Regions from separate parts of the Homo sapiens genome. Here region 1 is linked to region 2. Evidence: fine-mapped expression QTL. Tissue or cell type: whole blood. Region 2 holds a variant in brackets; the other region holds the start of a gene. All regions are shown on one strand. Distances are from middle to middle.

The links. PIP is the estimated chance that this variant, and not a neighbour inherited with it, causes the effect.
Region 1: RAB27A starts here. The variant in region 2 is fine-mapped to the expression of RAB27A in whole blood (TOPMed, PIP above 0.99).

The regions. Positions count from the first base shown.
Region 1 is chr15:55,288,565-55,291,183 of GRCh38, reverse strand. RAB27A (RAB27A, member RAS oncogene family) reads left to right here and starts at 1,371. Exons shown (of 7, transcript NM_183235.3): 1 at 1,371-1,468. RefSeq lists an enhancer at 904-1,053 and a silencer at 1,154-1,683.
Region 2 is chr15:55,220,008-55,222,770 of GRCh38, reverse strand. The region is part of intron 6 of RAB27A (RAB27A, member RAS oncogene family); the gene reads left to right. Among named protein-coding and RNA genes, the nearest start is that of RSL24D1, 24 kb to the right of the region's middle. The variant G/C (reference allele first, on the strand shown) is at 1,344.

The DNA.
Region 1 (2,619 bases), 68 kb before region 2:
CACGGGAAGAGCTCTTGAAGTTATCAACCTGTTAGGACATTTGTTATCTCTAAACCCGAGTTTACTGTGTTATGTTTGCCTGGAAATGTTATATCAAATGTATGAAATTGCCAACTGTTTGTAATTTCATATGGTTCATCCTATATGTGATTTTGTAAATTGGACCCACCTGAGAAGCTAACTGCTGTAATGCCAACTGTGAGTAGCTACAGACTGGAAAGGTGATGGAGTTGACCGGGTGGGCCTGCGACAGCTGGAATTTGCGGTGGAGGTAGACACAAGTCAGCGAGACGGCTTAGAAGGCAGAAGGGAAGCTGAACTAAGGCTTCTCAACATTTTACTCTGCTTAGAAGTGGAAACATTTGGTTCAAAGGGCCTTTGCCTTAGACTCCATAGGGACAGGCCCAAGGGCTGCTGTTCACACCTCCTGGCCACTGAGAGGGATGAACTTGGCTGCCTCTGAGTGGGAACCACGAGGTCTGACCCCCTACGCAGTCCCAGGTTCACTACCCCGCAGGCCGGAGCGACACCGTTGGCGCTGGGAGAAGAGAGCCGCTGGGTGGCAGCAAAGGCGCGCAGGTTTCTTCCGACAGAGGCGGTTCCTTAACATACTGTAGTTTTCTTCTTTTTAAACTCATTGCTCTAACACTCTTAGAAATTTACAGTGGTTTTATATTCTTGAATTACACAGTGTGAGCAGAGACTCCGTTTGCCATTTCCTCCCGGAATTACATTGATTTTTTTCCTGCGAAATTTTTTACTTATTTTTCTCCCATGTTATTTCCAGGAATCCTGGGCATTCCCTTGCCCCGGAAACGCCGTGTCCAGGCCGACCTAAGCCAGGAGCCGCAGGGGCGGGAAGCCGGGGGCAGGGCCGGGCCTGGGACGCCGCCTCAGGAGCCGCGCGGACTCGGGAACCTCGGGCGGGGCCGGCGTGAGTACGCCCGGCACCTCCGGCTGCTACGGTGGCGACCGCGAACTGATGCCGTGGAAAACACCCTTAGAACATGGCTTTTTGGGGAGGTGAATAGGGGAGAGTCCCCAAACGACACCTCGCCGCGCACCGGTCCTTGGTGCAGTTTGTAAATGTCCCTCCTGTGTCCCAAAACGAAAACACTCCTATATTTTGTAGCGCCTTCCAGAATGGGGCAGCGGAAACTAGTGTTGGGACAAAGGAGGCGAGCGGGGCCTTTTCGGGGCTCACAGAGGACCCCTCGGAGGCGCGGCCGCCGGGGAGAGCGCGACAGCACCCCGCCCCCCGCCAGCCGGGCGGGGGCCGCTCCCGAGGTGACAGGAGAAGGCGGGAGGTGGAGGAGAGAAGGTCCCGCCCCACCTCGCTCTCCTTTACGGGAAGTGATGTGGGGCCAGGCGGAAAATACCCGCCAACGACCCAAAAAAGGCCGGCGGCGGGTGGACGCGGCGCGCGAGGACCCGAGCCAGGCGGGGACAGGACGGCGGGGCGAGCCAGGTGAGGGGGCCTGAGGAGCGGGAGGCGCGCGGCGGGTCCGGTCCCTCCGGGAGGGCCGAGCGAGGCGTCCCCCTGGGGCCGTCCTAGGGCTGGGGTCCGAGTGCGCCGCCCTTCCTCCCCGCCTCCAGGCGCCCGAGCCCGCCTGAAGAGTGGCTTCTCTCCCAGGCCCTCAGCGCAGACCCCAGTGATGACAACTGCCTGGTGCTGGCCAGGTGCGGTCCCAGGTCCGGCCAGGGTCTCAGATCGCCTCCGGGTTGCATCCAGGTGGGAGGATGCCCATCAGGGGTAGGAAACTTTCCAGGAGGGAAAGGAGGAAAGTCCCCGACCTCCCGCACGCCCCCCGGTTCATTCCTCCCTCTTTTGCTTTCAGTTTAACTGTTTAACCTGGTTGCCCTCCGGTTGGTGAGGGTCTGGACTGCAGACTAGCTGCGAGGGAGGGGCTCTCTCTTCTCCTGTCAGTTAGACTGAAAACTACCTGGCAGCCAGGCCCTCCGGTCGGGACTGGTGGTGGTGCAGATATGATGACAGGCTTTGGTAACTATTGCCAAAGCCTGTCTCTGTCCCAATAGATCACCAGTTCAGCAAAGTCAGGCCTGAAGCGAAGGGAGTCTTGTGAGCCCTGGACTGAGGAGCCTTCCCAGCCTTTCCGCTCCTGCTGGCCACCTGGGCCCACATGGCCTCAGGGTCTTCTGCCACAGGGTCCTTACCCCTACAGCTTAACAGCTGTTCTTTCCTTCTGGATGGATTCTCACATTTTATGGTTGGTTGATCAGTCAGATGTTGGAATTGGGGGTAGAGGGATTATAGAGTTGTGTGTGCTATTTAAGTTTTCTGTAATCATTGCTAATTAAATTTGTTGATTCTCCACTCACTGTTCTTGTTCTTTTTTTTTTTTCGGCCTTAAAAACTTGCTTTAGAGGGAAAATACAATCTGGAAAACAGTTTCTGCAGATGGTTAGAAGTGAAGAAAGGTTAATATAATGCTGAAGGAACTTGACTGAGGATCATTATTTTCTGTATTTTATGTTGGTTTATGTTGTTTTATGTTTTCATTCCTACTTTTTTCTTCCTTCCTTTCTACCATTCTCTCTTCCTCCCTCCCTCCCTTTTTTCTTCCTTCCTTAATTTCTGTGACGTGCCTTGATTTTTAA
Region 2 (2,763 bases):
ATGTTACCTAGTTTGTGGCTTTGGTGGTTAGCAGAATCCAAGAAGGCCAAGAGAAAACCTTTCCCTTTTTATTGTGTGATCACTGCTTTATTCTTTCTTTGGTTGATGGAGGTTCAGAAAGCTGGTAGGGTTTATAGTGGGAAGGGAGGGGGAGGATAGGTTGGCCAGGTAGGAAGAAGCCAGACTCTGGAGGGGTTTGAATACCAGGTAAGGAGATTAGATTTGATCCCTGGAGGACAGGGAGTTGCTGAAAGCCTTTGAGCATGGAGGGATGTTATGTTTACATTTCCAGATCAGTCTATAGGCTATAGGTGGGGAGGGAGGAAAGACTAGAGATTGATAGATTGCAGTGGTCTGTGAGGTGGGCAGAGGCTAGCTTTGTGAAAAAGGAAAAGGAAGAATAAATCAGGAAAAACACATAGAGTAGGGCAGGATTTTAGGTTTTTCTCAAGGCTAGCTCAGCTGAAGGATTCCCATCCACTATAGGCTTACTCTGGCAAGGATTTGCAATTGCATGTAGAGGTTTTTACCCTAGGGCAGATGGTGTTTAACCATGTTAGAAACATCCAGAGAACTTTTAACACATTCTCATGTCTGGGCTTCACCTCTGACCATCAGACATAATTGGTTTGGAGGAGTTTCTCAGGCAGGGTTCACTTGAAGAAGCATACCTATACATGAAGGGATCTGTTACAGGAATTTGAGCATATGCAATTGTGGGAGCTGGGTAAGTAGTCTCTGTAAGGTGTTGTCTTTGTGTCTGATGCTGAAGCCTGAAGGACAGGACAGTCAGACAGGAAGGGGAGAAGGATGTGAAATGGGGGATGGATGGAAAAAGTGAGAACCAGCTGGTGCCCATAATGAGGGACTAAAACCCATGTCACTTCCTGTTGCCTCTGACCTGGCTGGTGTGGGTGTCCTGCAGAAACTGGGGCCCTTTGTCACAGGGCTAACAACATCACCTGGCCCAGGTGCAGGTCTAGTTGCAGGTTTATGACAATAAGATGAGCCAGCAGATAAGCGACAATATATGAGGGCTATGAAATGGAGGTTGCTTCACTTCCTACCCCCAAAATTGCCCCCAAATCTCTTTTGTGGCCCACCCTAACCAGAAAGGGCATTCTGGGAAATGTTGTTTAGCCTAGCCAAGCTGACTCATTACAAAGCCTGGGCATTGGTATCTTTTAAAATCTCCCCACGTGATCTTCATGTGCAATGGTTGAGAACCAGTGACTTAGGTGATTCTGAGGGGGAGGCTGACAGAGTCTTACCGGCCAGTCTGAAATGTCCCCCTGCTCCCCTGAGAGGCACTCATGTAACGTAGTGGAAAAGAAACAGGGAGA[G/C]AACGATTACCACAGAGAATGCTGTAGTGTTGAAGCTGTGAGGTATGTTGCAATGGGTAAGGAGGAAGTAAGTGATGAAGCAATGGAAACCATGGATCCTAGAGCATTCTTTTGAGAGTATGTCAGTAAATGCAAAGAAAAAAAAGAAAAAGGCAGTTAGAGGAGTTAGCTAGATCAAACAAGCACATTCAAGTATATTCTCAAGTACTGGGGGAGGGTCAGGCTTGACTTCTTGCCCCTGTGGGCTTTTTCAGCCCTTTGCTTGTTTCCTGTGCCCTCGGTCTTAGGATTCCACAGCCTGTCTGGTTTCACAGAGCCTAACCCTGCCTTCTGTCATATGGGGTATCTGAGGGGTGTGGGGGACTGTCTTTGACCTGTGCCCAGGTCACGATGGTTATGGAGTATTTCATAGAGAGGAGCTCAATCTATAGTTTTTGAATTGGGTTAAAATGAGAAAAGAGGATTTAGCAGATAATGATTGAAACCCTTGAAGAAAGGAAAGGGCTAGAAACAGAGTCCCTTAGGATACAGAAAGCATACCATGTAGTTTGGTAGGCTGTTTGGCACTTTTAGAGGAAAATATGATGGAAAAATTTGGTTCACATGCATTTCACAAATATGGCATATAACTTTAATGATTATTTTCACAGATGTTTTGTTTCATTCTTAGAACATTTACACTGGTTACACATGCACTAAAGGACTATATTGTTTAGTTTATCCATGTGCTAACAGTCAGAAAACAGGATAAAGTTTATGGCATATCTTCATATAATTTGTATGTTGTTTGATAAATTTACATTTTTTGTTACTATTATGCTGTCTTCTATTCTCAATTCATAAAAACAGATCACTGGGGCCAGGTGTGGTGGCTCATACCTGCAATGCCAGCACTTTGGGAGGCCAAGGCAGGTGGATCACCGGAGGTCAGGAGTTCTAGACCAGCCTGGCCAACATGGTGAAACCCCATCTCTACTAAAAATACAAAAAATTAGCCAGGTGTGGTGGCGGGCACCTGTAATTCCAGCTACTTGGGAGGCTGAGGCAGGAGAATCGCTTGAACCCTGGTAAGGCAGAGGTTGCAGTGAGCCAAGATCGCACCATTGCACTCCAGCCTGGGCAACAAGAGCAAAACTCTGTCTCAAAACAAAACAAACAAACAAACAAAAACAAACAAACAAACAAAAAAACCCCAGATCATTGGTTTACAATTGGTTCTCTGGAATAGACATATCAAAGAATCAAACACCATGTCTCAGAAGAACTTTGTAAGCCTAATAAAGAACACTACAGTGCGAAAATGGAATGTTAATCTGTGTGTGCTGGGACAAGTAAATTTGAGAATGAGGACTTCATACAACAGACAAAAATGTAAAGGGCAAATTGTATGCATGATAATGAATATCAGAAAAAAAATTTG